2 separate regions of the Homo sapiens genome follow, and region 2 is linked to region 1. The links come from fine-mapping of genetic effects on plasma protein levels. A gene starts in region 1. The other region holds a variant in brackets. All regions are shown on one strand. Distances are between the middles of the regions.

Region 1 (8,323 bases):
AGCTGAGATTGCACCACTGCACTCTGGCCTGGGCGACGGAGTAAGACCCTGTCTCAAAGAAACAAACAAACAAAAGAACATTCCCTGCTGAGTGTTGCTAAATTTGTGCTGGTTATGCAACCAGAGCAAACCAAAACACTCTCTTTACAGGGGCTAGAAATGAGGCTCAGGGAGGCCGAGGGACTTGTCTACGGCATAGGTGGGTAGACAAGTCATCGATGGCTAAGCTGGGATTGGAACCAAGATCTTCTCCCTGCTCACTTTGTGACCATTTCCTTGTATCCTATCTAGGGTTCAGGAAAGGTGAGGCCTAAAGCTGAAGATGATGAGTTCTTGGAATCGGCAAAGATCTCAGAACCCTCATCCTGTGGGAAGGTGAGGGGGCCCTGGGAGGGGGGACAGATAGGTGTCAACATCCCAGAAAGCAGGTAGAGTCAGAGGGTGGCTGTCATTGGGTCAACGTTCCTCCTAGCAGGACTGAGCCCCGGCCGGGGGGCCTCAGCTCCCAGGACTCACCCACGCTGCTCCGTTTGGCCGTCTGCATGAAAGAGCACCAGCTGCCCTTTCCGGTCGTGGCCAATGGCCGTCCTGGCTGATATCACATTCACAAATTTGCTAAAGGAACCTGAAGGAAAAGCAGCCTGGCTGATCACCGCCCCTTGGGAGGCCTCCTGCTTCTTGCCTAACTCCACTTCCCACTGGTCTGAGCTACCTGGTACCTCCCTGGGAAGCACAGCAGCCTCCTTGCTCGTCTCCCTGCCTCCCCTCTGCACATCCCAGTCTCCCCAGGGCAGCCGGGGGGTCTCTTCTTACAGGTAAACCAAGCTATGCCAGCCTCCAGGTGAAGACCCTCTAATGGTTTCCCCTGTTCTTAGAACAAAATCCAAAGAGCCAGCATGCCCTCCCCAGCCTCTTCCTCCTCCTGCCTCAGCTCCTGGGTGTCCCCTCACCACCCTGCAGCCACTTTGCACTTCCTGTTCCCTCTGGCTGGGAACTGTGCTTTTCTCTAGCTTGCTCCTTTGTCAGATCACCTCCTTAGTGAGGCCTTCCTTGACCGCCCACTCTTTTTTTTTTTTTGAGACAAAGAGTCTCGCTGTGTTGCCCGGGCTGGAGTGCAGTGGCATGATCTCAGCTCACTGCAACCTCCACCTCCCAGGTTCAAGCAATTCTCATGCTTCAGCCTCCCAAGTAGCTGGGACTACAGGCACACACCACCATGCCTGGCTAATTTTTGTATTTTTTTTTTTTGTAGAGATAGGTCTCACTATGTTGCCCAGGCAGGTCTTGAACTCCTGGGCTCAACCGATCCTCCCGCCTCGGCCTCCCAAAGTGCTGGGATTATAGGTGTTAGCCACCACACCTAGCTTACTGCCCACTCTAAAATGGTCATGGTATCCTGTCCCCATCCCAGTATTCTGCATCCCAGTGGTTCTCAACCTTGAGTGTCGGTCAGAGTCACCATGGAGGCCCGTTAAAACATAGACTCTTGGGCCTTGCCTCTGATTCTGCAGGTCTGAGGGTGTGGGGCTTTGAAACAAGCTCCTGGGCCACGCCGATGTTGCAGGTCCATGAAGATTTTTTTCTCTTCACTTTTCTCTTCCTGTACCCACAGCTCCGGTCCCCATCTCTCCCCTTTCCCCTAACTTTATTTTTGTTTCTGAGCACTTATCAATTCTTTTCAGCATATTCTATAACTATTTTTTGTCCTATATATTCAATATAAGCCTATCTTCCTCCCCATGAATCCCCAGTACCCAGAATAGTGCTGGGCACAAAGTAGCTGCTCAATACTTGTTGAAAGACTTAAGAACAGCTCCGCCCAGCCCACTGGTCCTGGTTCTCGAGAGGGTTGTTGCCAACAGCCTCCCCATCCAACCTGTCTCCTGTGTCTCGTCACACTCTGTGGCTTGGCTCTCGTTGATGTAGATGCTTCCATTACGAATCAGCCACACGACCCCACTCAGCAGCTGCACAAATGGGTTCTCAGTGTCCAGCACCTCCTCCTCAGACAGGTACCTGGATCCGGGGAAGGTGGGAAGCTCACTCACCAGCAGGGGCAACTGCAGATAGTCAGGCTCTTTCTCCCTAGCCATCCCAACCTGGCTGCTAGATTCCCCCTCATGCCCCAGGAACCTCCTGGGGCCTGAGTGTAGCTGGGACAACTTAACAGCCCTAGGAATCTCCCTGTTGTCAGAGCTGAAGCTGGACAGGGTTCTGACAATACAATCCCCACAAGCCTTTGCAAACAGTCTGTTTCATTTAACAGAAATGACCATCCCCCAACAGAGCTCAAATCCATCTATGGCCCTCAATCCCCAGGCCATACCCAGCCCAACTACCACTTGATCCCTGTTACGGCCCTTCATTGGCTTCCTTGTTTCTCCACTGCTCTCTCCCACCTGGTCCCACTCAGGATCAGAACAAGCTTTATCATCAACAAATACTTTTTTTTTGAGACTCAAATAATTTTTAAGATAATTTTAAATAATTCAAATCATCAATCTTGCCAGGGCGTGGTGGCTCACACCTGTCATCCCAGCACTTTGGGAGGCTGAGGTGGGTGGATCACTTGAGGTCAGGAGTTCGAGACCGGCCAGGCCAATATGGTGAACCCACTCCCCCGTTCCCCACCCCATCCCGTCTCTACTAAAAATACAAAAATCAGCCGGGCGTGGTGGCACACGTCCGTAGTCCCAGCTACTCCAGAGGCTGAGGCAGGAGAATCGCTTGAACCCGGGAGGCAGAGGTTGCAGTGAGCCGGTATCATGCCACTGCCCTCCATCCTGGGCAACAGAGCAAGACTCTGTCTCAAAAAAAAAAAAATCATCAGTCTTGATGAGTTGATGTTTCTGACACCCCACTCCTTTTTCAGTCCCTCATACACACAAGCCCCCCTGAGCCTCTGAGCCTTTGTGCGTGGGGTTCCTTTGGACTGAAACGCTCTTCCTCCAGTTCTGACCTTGGCTCACTTAGTGATTCATCTTCAAGTTCCCACTCAAAGGTCACCTCGGAGAGGCGTGTTCCAGATCACCCTCCCTAAAATCAACACTATTTACAACGGGTTCACCCCGTTGGTTGCTTTGCTGCACACACAGCAATCAGAATGTATGTTAGCTATTTACCCGGCTTTTGTTGATTTTTCTAGTAATGGGGGAGGGCTGTTAAGGCAAAGACTGTGTTGTTCACGGCTATCTCACCGGGGCGCGGCACATTGCCTGATACAAGCAAGTGCTCAATGATACTGGATGATGAATAAACTCTGCAAGGAAGCGATTCCTATCCCCATTCTGCAGAGGAGGAAACAGGGGCTCAGCTTGGTTAAGTGACTTGAACACGGAGGCACGGCTACAACCCAAATCTCAGGCCCTCTGCCCTCGACAGCACGGGGCTCCCTGCCTCCTCACCCGGTGACCAGGGTCCCGTCGCGGCGGATCCCGAACTGCGCGTTCTGCAGCCCCCCGGAGCTGCTCACCCGCCGCTCGTCGCTCACCACGTTCCCCAGGCACTCGCCCGAGTTCATGCGGAAGAAGCCGCCGTTCTGGGCGACACGGCAGTCGGCCGCCCGCGCCGTCTCCTCCACGGTGGCGCGTCGTCTCGCCGCGCAGCCGCCGGGTCCACCGGGCTCCAGCACCGAGAAGGTGCGCAGGGGCTCAACGGCCCGCGTCAGGTGGCCGGCCACCGCGCGGTCCCTGAAGTGCGACACGAAGGTGCGCACGGCCAGACCGCCGGCGCCGGGAGTCGCGGGAGGCGGAGGCCAACTCTCGTGCTCGCGGTTGCCGGCGCGCACCCGTGTGCAGTCCCGGGGGAGGCGCGCGCGCGCGCGTGGATAGGGCAGTAGCAAGTCGTCGTCGCGGGAGGCCCTGCGGGGACGGGCGGCCGTGAGCTCAGGGGGCTGTCCTCGTGAGCTCGGAGGACAGGGGGGACCCCCCGAACCAGGCTGGCCCAGGGAGCTGCACTCACCCCGAGTCGAGGCCGCCGGACGCTTCCCAGAGGAAGCCGAATAGTGCAAGCCGGAGGAGAAGCCAGCGACCCGTGGAGGTCGCCATATTGGACCGGGGCCTCGGGTCATGTGGGCTCGCCTCACGTGACTCAAGTCCCAGGGTGGCCGCTTTCAGCTCGGACTGAATTACCTGCGCTCTTTTCGGCTGGCGGGCTGGCGGGCGGTGCTGGTGATGTTAACTTTTTATCTCCAGGTAATCTCAAACCTACAGGAAGTTGCAAGGAGAGCATAAAGAACTCTCGTAGAACTGTTATTCATGTTTAGCAGTGGTTTAGGCTTGCCTGATTTACTCAATCATTTGTACTTTGTTTTTTTTTTTTCCTGAACCAATGGCAACCAAATTGCAGATGTCATGATCCTTTACCCCATACCTCGCCATGAATCTCCTAAGAACAAGGGCATTTTCTTAACCACAGGGCAAATATCATTAGGACAACTCCCATTGACATTTCTGTGATGTCATCCACAGCTAACCTTCAATTGTCCCTCTAATGTCTTTTTTTTTCTTTTCCTTTTTGTCCGCCCCTGACCCTGTAACCCAGGAGTTGCTTTTAGTTGTCATGTCTCTTTGATCTCTTCATCTGGAAGGCTCCTCAGCCTTTTGTCTTTTACTACCTTGACATTTTTGAAGACAGCCCAGCTACATGATTTGTGTGACTCAATGCAAAATGAAAACGTGGGGACACTTACTAAAAAACCCAGAAAACTATTAAGAATTTCAAGATGGTCAGAGCAAATGGTTGCAGCAAGCCAGGGACCTTCTGAGTGAGCCCATGAAGCTGGCCCTGAGTATAGAAGCCAGTTTATTTTGTAGCATGTACTTCAAGCTTCCTTTGAGAGGATTCTTCTCTTCAGGCCTCCTGTCCCAGTGCAGTGTCCAGGGTTGGGTGGTGTCTTGGTGCCAGTGCAGTGCGTGGGCCATTCCAGGAGCCACGGCAAGTCTAATTGGCTTGATACTGTTGCGGTCTTGCCAGTGCACCTTAATATAGCAGTTTCTCCTTGTCTGAACTAGTCCCGGGGTTCTTTGTCCTACCTCCAAGAAAACTAAGGAGCGTGGACACAAGGGTGGGGTTGGAGCGAACGTTTAATAAGGGAAAGAAGAAAGCTCTCCAAAGTGGAGACGGGAGTCCGAGTGGATTGTCGGGTTACAGCTGAATGCAAAAAGCTTTTTTTTTTTTTTTTTTTAAGACAGAGTTTTGCTCTTGTCACCCAGGCTGGAGTGCAATGGTGCGATCTTGGCTCACTGCAACCTCAACAACCTCTGCCTCCTGGGTTCAAATGATTCTCCTGCCTCAGCCTCCCGAGTAGCTGGGATTACAGGCACACGTCACTGCGCCCTGCTAATTTTTGTATTTTGGGTAGAGACGAAATTTTACCATGTTGGCCAGGCTGGTTTCAAACTCCTGACCTCAGGTGATCCGCCTCCTTCCGCCTCCCAAAGTGCTGGGATTACAGGCGTGAGCCACTGTGCCTGGCCGCAAAAAACTTTTATAGGACACTGCTCTCCTCCTGGTAACTGAGTAACTTCTTACCAGTAAAACTGCCTGTGCAGCTCCCCTTATGTTATGCAGCTGTGGGTATGTCTCTAGGCAAGTGCAAATCGCTGCTTCTCTTGTTTGTGTAACTGTGGGTTTGTTTTAGATAAGGCCCCCTCCTCCCTGTGCCGGTTTCCATGGAGCCCACTGTGTATATGCCTGAAAAGGAGAGGAAACTTTTTCCCGGGAGCCTGCTAATTATGCAAAGAACAAAGGGCTTCTGCGCTGGACCCTGTCTGCTTATCTCCGTGCAGGTCCAGCCTGAGTTTTTTCCCAGGTTGCTTTATTTTTGCCAGTTTCTATGACTTTTCAGGCAGGCCACTTCTGAGGTCAGAATTTTCCCCAACGGATTTTTCTTTTCCTTCTCCCTCACTACCACAGGTATGGGGGGACACAGATAGGGGCCAGGCCAGCCCCTTTTCATCCACAGTCAGCACTTCTGGTGCTTGATCTCAGGCCCCTCTTTGAGCCACTGCTCCTTTGAGCCAGTCCACGGTGAGGGTTAGTGAACTCAGTTAGAGAGTGTCCCCCCAAACTCATGTCCTTACCAGAACCTCAGAATGTGAACTTGTTTGGAAATTGGGTCTTTGCAGATGTAATTAGTTAAGATGAGGTCATTCTGGAGTAGGGTGGGCCCTGAATCCAATCTGACTGGTGTTCTTGTAAAAGACACAAATACACACAGAGGAAAGAAGCTCATATGAACACAGGCAGAGATTGGACTGATGCAGTCATAAGTCAAAGAATGCAAAGAAGGCTAGCAGCCACCAAGAGCTAGGAGAGAGGCGTGGGAGAGACTCTTGAGCTTTGACAGAGAACATGGCCATGCTGATGCCTTGCTTTTGGAAACTAATACAATTCAGGGACCTCAAAGGGGTCCCGGGAACAGCTCTGACGCTCCTAGTTCACTTTAACCATGTACAAAATGACTGCTCCTCCTAGAGGCTTAAATGACCAATATATTGATGTGAAGGGAGTATATCTTTCTGAGCTTTGCATTGGGCTGCTAAAAATAACCAGCAGAGGAGCCCAGGCCTGACGCCTACTCCCTGCCTCCGGAAGCGCTCTTTTTTTCTGCCTCAGTTAGGAGTTGCAGGAACAGGCAGTCTTTGGCAAGTTCTGACTTTGGTTTTCTCCCTACTTTGAGGTTTGCTACTCCTTTGCCAAGTTTTTCTAAGCACATAACGGGTGCCACAGAAATTCTGCATTTGAACAGAGCAGCCCATATCCACAGTTCTAGCCAAAGCTGCTAAGAAGCCAAGGGTTTTCTTTTTTGCTCTTCAGCCTGGAATACTTTTGTCCCCTCTTAGCATCCTCATTTGAGTTCTACCATCATTTGTGTGTTCAACAGGCTGAGCACCTCGTATGTGCTCCGTTGCAGCTGATCCCTGCCTTCATGGAGCTTAGCTTTTCAAGGGGAAACAGACATGAAACAGTTATGTGATGAATGCAAGAAGCAAAGGGCAGGACTGCGAGAGAAGGATGTTGCAGGTGTGGCAGGGAAGCCTCTCCAAGCCCCTTTAGACTGTGATTGAAGGAAAGAAAAGATGCGGCTGTGTGCAGATCTGGGCCAGAGCCTGAAGTGGGAAACAGCTTGGGAGGTGCAGCAGGAAGAGCCACCTGGTGGGAGAGGAGGGCCGTGGGGGAGGGGTTGGAGGTGGTGAGCAGGGTTGAAGTGGGAGGGCCAAGGCAAGGCCAGATCGTACATGCAGGGATCCAGGGAAATGAGTATGGATTTCAGCCAAAGTGAAATAGTAAGCCATTGGAAGGTTTTTTTTTAAACTTTATTAAGATAAAATTTACATACTGTAAAATTCTCCTAAGTGTACAATGCAATGATTTGTAGTAAATGCACAGCGATATTCCAGCATCACCATTATCCAGTTTTAGGATTTTTTTTATCACCCAAAAAAGTTTTGTTATGTAATTCTATTATTATTTAGAGACAGGATCCCATTCTGTTGCCCAGACTGGAGTACAGTGGTGCAATCATCGCTCACTGCAGCCTCGACTTCTTGGGCTCAAGCAGTCCTCCCACCTCAGCCTCCTGAGTAGCTGGGACTACAGGTGTGTACTACCACACCAGGCTAGTTTATTTATTTATTTTTAGATGGAGTCTCACTCTGTTGCCTAAGCTCGAGTGTAGATTGAAATGGCCTGATCTTGGCTCACTGCAACCTCAGCCTCCCAGGTTCAAGCGATTCTCCTGCCTCAGCCTCCTGAGTAGCTGGGATTACCGGGGTGTGCCAACACGCCCGGCTAATTTTTGTATTTTTAATAGACACAGGGTTTCACCATATTGGCCAGGCTGGTCTTGAACTCCTGACCTCAAGTGATCCACCCCCGTTGGCCTCCCAAAGTGTTAGGATTATAGGCGTGAGCCACTGTGCCCGGCCCGAAAGTCATTTTTGTAAAACTCTTAGGAAATGGAAACGTCAAAGGATCAATTTCTTCTGTCCGTGCTGTGTATAGTATCTGTTGTGTAAAGGGCTGGGAGGGCATTAACAGCATCCCAGAAACTGGCGTTGAGGTTCTGAGGGGCAGGAGATTCTGTCATAGGCTGCGTGTCTGGTAGGTGGCCCCCACGTCCAGTTGGGTACATTAGGGGTGCCCCTCATCCCATGTGGACTTGCAGGGTGGTGTGGGGGCTGCCAGCTGGGCAGACCAGACTCAAGCACGCTCACAGCCCAAGGTCCCTTCCACCAGCTAAGACCTGGACAAAACATCTCCAGGTGCCTCTTTTTTCTTTTTCTTCATTTTTTCTATTTAATTCAGCAAATATTTTTTA
Region 2 (8,323 bases), 14 kb before region 1:
GTTATGCAGTATCAAGATGTGCTTGGTGAGCAGTTAAGTGAGTTACAGGCGCTGCTCTTTGTGGGGAACAGCACATCCTGAAGTGAAAATCCATGTTCCCTGCACTTGGCCAGCATGGCCTAAGCCTGACCATCCCTGATTGGAGAGGGTGGGAGAGCCCTGGGTTTCTGCTAAGTTCCAGGCAGTGATGGGGTGACTGAGGCTGTCTGTATACCCCACTGGAGATGCCTTTCTCTCCTAGGGAACTGTTTAATTATGACTGTTTTTGGTTGTAAGCCACAGAGACCCATGCCCAGGTGCTTCAACACAAAAGCATGATCATTCATGGGTGCATAGAACTGGCCAGTCCAGGAGGGCTTGCTTCAGGTAAGGCTAGATCCAGGGTCTCAACATGGAGTCTCGATTCCCCCCGCGAGTGGAGGCTGCTGTGTTTGCCCTGGGGCAGATATGACTCTGGAACTAGGTTCAATATTGACATGAGTTCCCCTAGTTACTACACAGGAGCGTCTTGGGTCTCCTTGGGGCCTGAGGACATTTCTCCTTTCCTTTCCTGGACTCCCCAAAAGGCAGCCAGTCAGGGGTCACCAACTTGAAGCCTGATCTGGCCTGCTTTTAGTGTTGCTTTTTTGCCTTTAGAATGGTTTAAAAATTGAGGCATTTCGCATCGAAATCAGGATTTCTGGCTTCCCTTAGGCATTTGGGAGCACCAGCAGAATGGGGTCACTATTGTTGCATGAAGACAACACCTCTGCACCCCTGGATGTGGCCACGCCAGTCCCTACCCCATTGACTTGCGCCCAGCCCACATTACACATCCTCATGACCTGCGTGGCAGGAGTCTCACTGACATGGCTCTGTCAGCAGTGGCTGGTACCCTTGTCTCCTGGCCTTGCTTAGAGTTGGGGCTCATCTCTGCTGCAGTAACTGAGCCAAGGGGTGGTTTTGTGGCCACAAGAATCATCTTTATGCAGGCTCAGCAATGCAGGGCCAGGAAACTTATATCTACGCCAGCCTCAACCCCAAACCCAAGGAAGAGAGAAAGTGTCATCTTTTCAGATACATCCTTCTTCCTGCTGGGAGAGAGCCTTGCCCACCTTCCTGTTGGCTCTCTGTCCGCTTCTCAGGTATCTGAACAAAATAGATTGCTTTGCACTCTGCGTCAAGGTGTGTGTGCACATGTGTGCATAAGAGACCGACTGATTGGAAGGAGACGTTCTCAAAACTAATTGCTCCCATATCACCAGGCATTTATTGCTGAGAGCAACTTGCAATATTTTCAACTATCTTTAAGTGAATTTCTAGCTTTTCTCTTAAAAACTAGGTGTTATCCTACAAGTATGCTGGGATAAGCTGCCCTGGCAGTCTTTATACATTTATTGTCTAGCCCCAGAGAAGGACACAGAAGCCTTTTACGGAAGGAAGCTGGAACTGCCTGTTCCAGAGGCGGGTGGGGGGAGGGGAGTCTGCTATCAGCTGTCCACCCTTAACAGTGGGGGTGAGGAACCTCAGGCCCTTTCAGTTCTGCTCTTGAGAGTGCTCTCTCCCTAGGGAAAACCAGCCCAAACTGGCTTAAGCAACAAAGCAAATTCCCTGGGTCCTGTACTAGGGATGGCTGAAGGTGGGTGCTGCTTCAGATATGGCTGGATCCAGGAGCTTAATGTCCTCAGGCCTCTCAACTGCACCCAGGCCTCTTGACTCTGCATCTCTTTGCATGCTGACCTCATTCTTTCTTCCACCTGGCGGGAAAGATGGCTGCCAGCAGCCCCAAGCCTATAATTTCAGGATTCACACTCTAAGAGATGCTTTTCCATCTCAAATCTCATGGAAGGCTCTGATTGGCCCAGCTCGAGTCACATGCTTATTCCTGTGGGCCACACTGGCAAGGAACTAGGGTCCCGTGATTGACATTCCCTGCAGAAGCCGCAGCAGGATTGGGGAGGGCCATTCCCCCAATGGACAAGAGAAGCTGGACCACAGAACCAGCAGGTATCCATGGTGGCATCTGCTACGGCCGGCTCTCCTCCCATGTGGAGGTCTCGGGGACCCACGTGGAAGCATTATCAAGGTCATTCTTCTTGCCTTCGGGAGGACTGGAATTAAAAATAATCCAAGGAAGGGATTGCCAAGCTTTTGGCTTTTGAATTTCCCCTGAGCCACAAAGGCTGGAAGTGCCTTGGCTTGGGCTTCTTGCATCATTAGTTCATTAATCCATTGTGACCAGGACAGAAGCAACCCACAAGCAGCATTACTGTTGGTGTTTGGGCACCTGGGCCTTGAATTTAGGCCAGGACTCAAACCCCAGCCTTCCTTTCACTAGCTGTGTAACCTTGACCAGGTGACTTAACCTCTCTGTGCCTCAGTTTCCTCATCTGTAAAGTGAGGATAGCAGTGCCTACCTCAATAGGTTGTAGTGGGACGAAATGAGGGAGTAGCTGTAAAGCTTTCAGCACAGCTCCCAGAACACAGAAAGCGCTCCATTAATGTCAGTGGTCATTCTGATTACTTAATGCTTCGCATCCAAAGACTCGTTTTCTTCCTGAGGTCGCCTATCCCTGTTTTTCGTTATTGCACCCAGAGAAAAGTAGGTGTCAAGAATTATTGCCCTCTGAGTTGGGTGTGCAGTCTTTCTCTTTTAGAAACTGCTTGTGTGGGCGGGGCGTGGTGGCTCATGCCTATAATCCCAACACTTTGGGAGGCTGAGGCCGGCTGATCGCTTGAGTGCAGGAGTTCAAGACCAGCCTGGGCAACATAGTGAGACCCTGTCTCTACAAAAAATTAAAAAATGAGCCAGGCGTGGTGGTGCGTGCCTATAGTCTCAGCTGCTCGGGAGGCTGAGGCAGAAGGATTGCTTGGAGGTCAAGGCTGGAGTGAGCCATGATCTCACCCCTGTACTTCATCCTGGGTGACAAAGCAAGACCCTGTCTCAAAAAAAGAAGAAAGAAGCTGCTTGTGTTTTCTGGGTAAGTCCACCCATCTGAGGGAGTGTATTCTGAGTGGTATTTCCCTTGGCAGTTAGAAAATGTTTTTTCCCAGAGGTTGAAGTATGGAGAGTTTGAGACTCTTTTTTTCTACCCTGCACTCTCTGGAATTCCCCCTCCCTGCTGTAAAATTTATTGTCCAATGAGAATAGTATAATTGTTTTCAACAAAGTCTCTTTGAGCCAGTGAAACACGATGGGTTTTTTTGTTTGCCTGATCACTTGCTCCAACCAGCAGCATTAAATGTTTTCCATTTGGATAAACTTGCATCGTCAGCTTCCTAAAACCCTGGAGGTTTCCCGTGGGCTCGTTCAAGAACTTTCCAGCTGTTGTTTAAAAGACTTTAGAGCTAGCTTGTTCAGCCTGTGGCCTGCAGGCTGCACGCGGCCCCGGACTGCTTTGAATGTGCTCCAACACGAGTTCGTAAACTTTCTTAAAATACTGAGGTTTTTTGTGTGTGTGTTTTCTTTG[T/C]TTTTTCAGCTCATCAGCTATCATTAGTGTATTTTATGTGTGGCCCAAGACAATTCTTCTTGTTCCAATGTGGTCCAGGGAAGCCAAAAGATTGGACACCCTTGCTTTAGAGCATTTGCAACCGGAGTGATATCACCCCCAAGGGGCTGCATATCTGTTTAATGCAGGTATAATTGTGTATCATATATATTGTATACATATGTAATGGATTGGATAGCATGTCCCCAAATTCATGTCCACCTAGAACCTTAGAATGTGACCTCATTTGGAAATAAGGTTTTTGCAGGTGTAATTAGTTAAGGTTCTCAAGATTGGTTATTGGGCCGTGTGAGGGAGGATCACAATTTTTATATATAAAGCAGAAATAGGCCAGGCGCAGTGGCTCACGCCTGTAATCCCAGCACTTTGGGAGGCCGAGGCGGGTGGATCACAAGGTCAGGAGATTGAGACCATCTGGCTAACATGGTGAAACCCCGTCTCTACTAAAAAATACAAAAAATTAGCCGGGCATGGTGGCGGGCGCCTGTAGTCCTAGCTACTCGGGAGGCTGAGGCAGGAGAATGCCGTGAACCCGGGAGGCGGAGCTTGCAGTGAGCCAAGATTATGTCACTGCACTCCAGCCTGGGTGACAGAGTGAGACTCCGTCTCAAAACAACAACAACAGCAACAACAACAACAGGAATGTTCTGGAGGCTGGAAGTCCGGAATCACCATGGAGGTAGGGCCCTGCTCCTTCTGAAGGCTGTAGGGGAGGACCCTTCCTTGCCTCTTCCAGTGTCTAGTGGCACCTCGTGGCTTGTGGTTGCATCACTCCAGTCTCTGCCTCCATCATCATATGGCCTTCCTCTCTCTCTGTGTCTCCTCTTCTTGTAGGGATGCCAGTCATTGGATTTAGGACCCATCCTAAGTCCAGTATAACGTCTTGAGATCCTTAACTAATTCCACCTGCAAAGATCTTACTTCCAAGCGAGGTCACATTTTAAGGTTCCGGATGGACATGAATTTTGGGGCATGCTACTCAACTTATTATGTATGCATACAATAGCTAACCAGATACACAGTTATATCTGCATTAAACAGATATGAAAATCCCTGGTGCCCATCTCTCCTGGGCTGCCCTGCCCTCCCCCTGGGGTTTTACCAAAGTGCCAGACCTGGTGTCCTGGAGAGCTGCATCCCAAAACAGCCACAGTCCTGACGTCAGAAGGTTGTGATGAACCCTGTCCAGGGTGCCACCTGTCCTTCCCGTGAGCTCTCTTGGGGCACGGAGAGTGGAGCTGGCTGCCACACAGATCCTGGGACTCTGAAAAGCCTTCGTCGTTTTGGAGCTGGTGGCTGGGGTTGTCATTTGTGAGAGCAGAGCAGGTGTGGTGTTTTGTGTGATGGCACGAGGGCCATCTGTCCACCCAGCTTCTGCTCCCCAGCCCTGCCCAGCACAGCTCGTCAGGGGAGAGGAGGCGGCTTGCACTTGCGTGTGTTCATGGGCGGTGACTCTTCCGTGGATTTCTCTGGAACTGTGGGTGGCGGGTTTCAAAGGAACAGCCAGCTGACTCGTGGGTGCGGCGGGTATCGAGAAAGAACAGCCCTGTGGGGGAAGATGGAGCTCCGGAGGGTGGGCGGGAGCTGGGATCAGGCCTGAGCTGTGGGGCCCTGCTGATGCCTGTCTCAGCCACAGCGCTTTCCTTGGAGGCCTCCTGGGGCCTGGACCCAGAGCGAGCAAAACATGCCCAGGGCTCCCTGTGGCCCAGAGGCTGCCTCTGGGATCAGTTCTTGGGGCACAGACCCCTGGGACCTCTGCGGAGCCAGGTTGGACGCAAGCAGCTGCAGTGGGAGCTGGGGTAGGGCCTGGGAGGAAGGGAGCCCAGGGCCTCCAGGGATGTCAGAGGCTGTGGCTACCAACTTCTCCCTCTCACTTCCCTGCCTCCCTTAGTGCCCAGCCCCCAACAAGGCATTTTGGAGGAATGCGGATCCCCAAAAGTCACATTTTTTTTTGAGACAGGGTCTCACTCTGTCACCCAGGCTGGAGTGCGGTGGCATGATCATGGTTCACTGTAGCCTCAACCTGCCGGGCTCAAGCGACCCTCCCACCTCAGCCCCAAGTAGCTGGAACCACAGGTGTGCGCCACCATGCCTAATTCTTGTATTTTTTTGTAGCGGCGGGGCCATGTTGCCCAAGCTGGCAAAAAGCACAATTTGAAACCTCTAAGCCAGGATTTTTTTTTTTTTCCGGACACAGACTGCTTGGAGAATCCCATGAGAACTCAGGACACACACACGAATTTCATTTGTTTTGGGGCCCCAAAGAGTCCTTGAAAGCCCACCCATTGACGCCAGGATGGGAACCTTTCTGGGGTCTTTCCGAATACTAAAGTTCTGTGCAGAGCACCCCAGAAGCTGAGACGTGTCACCATGGCGATGGCCCAGCATGTGGAACTCTCAGGGTTCCCAGTTGAGCTGCAGAGACTTCAGTGTGCAGTCCAAGACCACCGTGCCTGTGCCTGGGGGTCTTGAGTCACTACTGTGGGTGGGGGAGGGGACCCTTATGCTGCTGGGATCGGAGCACATGAATCCCCAGCCGGCTTGCCTGCAGTTTGATGACTTTAGCTCTTGTATATTTGTGTCCCCACCAGCACCATAGGTTGGTACTGGAATCTCAGACACTTCTGCCTCCTGCTCCATGTCCTATCTAAGGTCTGCCGTCCAAAATCTAAATGCCTGAGTCCCAAAATGTGCCTCTCCTGTAACAATACAAGTGTCACACGTTTGGGTTGCCGGAGACCCCAAAACCCAATACAAATTGCCTCAAGCAAAAAATGGGAATTTATGGGTTCATGTAATTCGGAAGTCCAAGAATGATCTGGCTGGCTTCAGGTATAGCTGGATCCAGGCATTCAAATCATGTCCCCCCACCCCCACCCCAACACCCTCAGTCTAGTCGTTTTCCACACTGGCTCACCCGCTCCATCTCTTGGTTCTGATCAGGTCTTCTCCACACTGGAGAAGAGTTGGTTTCCGTTCCTCCTCCTTGTGGCCCACCTTGGCCCACCTTGTGGCCCTCCTTGTGTCTAACCTTGGAAGTTAGACAGTCCCAGCAGAGAGAGTTTCTTCTTCCAGCTGCAGCAGAAGTTCCACGATGGGCTCTGACGGGCTGACCCGGGGCAGGTGCCTAACTCTGGACCAATCTCTCAGGCCCACCTGCAACTTGGGGTGAGAAGACAGTGCCACCCAAACCACCTGGATGGAGAATGGGGGAGAGGTACTACCCTGATAGCAACACGCTAGAGGCTCACAGCCAGGGCTCCTGGGTTTTGGGGTCTCCGGCAACCCAAAACGTGTGACACTTGTACTGTTACAGGAGAGGCACATTTTGGGGCTCAGGCATTTAGATTTTGGACGGCAGACCTTAGATAGGACGTGGAGCAGGAGGCAGAAGTGGCCACCTCCCCGGGCACTCTCATTACCATGGAAGGCTTCAGGTCACAAGATGTTGCAACTTTCCCACAGCTCCCTGTGGTTGCCAGGGCACATTCGGTCTCTGGGTAGGGCAGACTGGCACTGCCAGGGAGTCAACCCCCAGGAGCGGCCCTCAACCAATGATGAATGGGTGTTGGCTGATAAATACCCCAGCTTCCTCGCCCTTGTGTGGTGCAACCAAGACCTGTTCTACCAACTGTCCCAGAGGCCCCCAGCAGGATTGAGCCCCTGTTGCCTACAGTATAGACTTGCTCACTCCTGCACTCTGCACAGGCTGCCTTCCCTCCCTGTCCTCTACCAGTGCTTCCTGGGGCCGCCTCCCCAATAAAGTACTTGCTCTCACCTCCTTGTCTTAGTTTCTGCATCTGGGGAATCCTAGCCTAAGACAGGGCTGTTGCTAGAAGAGAGACTGGATGTCGGGCAGGCAAAGAAAATCAATAACACAATGACAAATTAAAAAGAAATTACAGGCTGGGTGCGGCAGCTCATACCTGTAATCCCAGCACTTTGGGAGGCCCAGGCGGGTGGATCACTTTAGGCCAAGGGTTCGAGACCAGCCTGGCCAACATAGTGAAACCCCGCCTCTACTAAAAATACAAAAATTAGCCAGGCATGGTGGTGCATGCCTGAAATCCCAGCTACTTGGGAGGTTGAGGCATGAGAAACGCTTGAACCCGGGAGGCAGAGGTTGCAGTGAGCCGAGGTTGCACCATTGCACTCCAGCCTGGGGAACAAAATGAGACTGTCTCAAAAAAAAAAAAAAAAAAAATTCCAGGGGCCACAGGACTCACACCGCTTGGCATGTTTGAGTCACCTGACCTGGGACCCCTCTAACTTTGCTGTGACAGGCCCTCTTCAGGTACTGCTGCCTCTGGGCCTGGATTCCAGTGCACAGGACTGTCACTTTTCCAACTTAGCCGCCAGCACAACAGAGATGTCCCCTCAGAGGTCATGGTTCTCAGGCCAAGGGTCATTTCAGGATGGTCATCATGGCCATCATCGTGGCCGTGGCGTCAGACTGAGAGTGATCCCTGTAGATTCCAGGATCTGCAGCCAGGCTTGGGAACTGCTCTTAGGAATACACCTGAATGACTCTAAGGCGCCTGACTTTGCAGCTCCTTTTTAAGAGGCAGAGCCCGTTTCCCTTCTCCCTGAATCTGAGCTGGCCTGGTGACTTGTGCAGGCGCCCACCAGGGCTGCCAGATCTTTAAAGAGAAACCAGCAAGCTGGAATTTTTGTCAATCTCTGGACTTTTTGAGATGGAGTCTTGCTCTGTTGCCCAGGCTGGAGTGCAGCGGTGCGATCTCAGTTCACTGCAACCTCCACCTTCCGGGTTCAAGCGATTCTCCTGCCTCAGCCTCCTGAGTAACTGGATTACAGGCTCCCACCACCATGCCTGT

Alleles and levels. Positions count from the first base shown, and alleles are read on the strand shown. Strength reflects both the effect of a copy and how common the allele is.
For the plasma level of the protein whose gene starts at base 4,067 in region 1, T is the high allele of the variant in region 2 and C is the other (weak association).

The links. PIP is the posterior inclusion probability: the model's chance that the variant is causal. Protein levels are from antibody-based Olink assays in UK Biobank. Linkage for the fine-mapping came from a reference panel and not from the study's own genotypes, which makes the PIPs less certain.
Region 2: its variant is fine-mapped to the plasma level of the NAGPA protein (UK Biobank, PIP above 0.99).

The regions. Positions count from the first base shown.
Region 1 is chr16:5,029,869-5,038,191 of GRCh38, forward strand. It overlaps NAGPA (N-acetylglucosamine-1-phosphodiester alpha-N-acetylglucosaminidase), which reads right to left and starts at 4,067. Exons shown (of 10, transcript NM_016256.4): 1 at 3,961-4,067; 2 at 3,405-3,860; 3 at 1,877-2,016; 4 at 517-625. The coding sequence starts at 4,046. NAGPA-AS1 (NAGPA antisense RNA 1) reads left to right here and starts at 3,834. Exons shown (of 2, transcript NR_038913.1): 1 at 3,834-4,193. RefSeq lists enhancers at 3,304-3,805, 3,999-4,178.
Region 2 is chr16:5,015,735-5,024,057 of GRCh38, forward strand. SEC14L5 (SEC14 like lipid binding 5) reads left to right here. Exons shown (of 16, transcript NM_014692.2): 16 at 1-3,423. Among named protein-coding and RNA genes, the nearest start is that of NAGPA-AS1, 14 kb to the right of the region's middle. The variant T/C (reference allele first, on the strand shown) is at 3,450.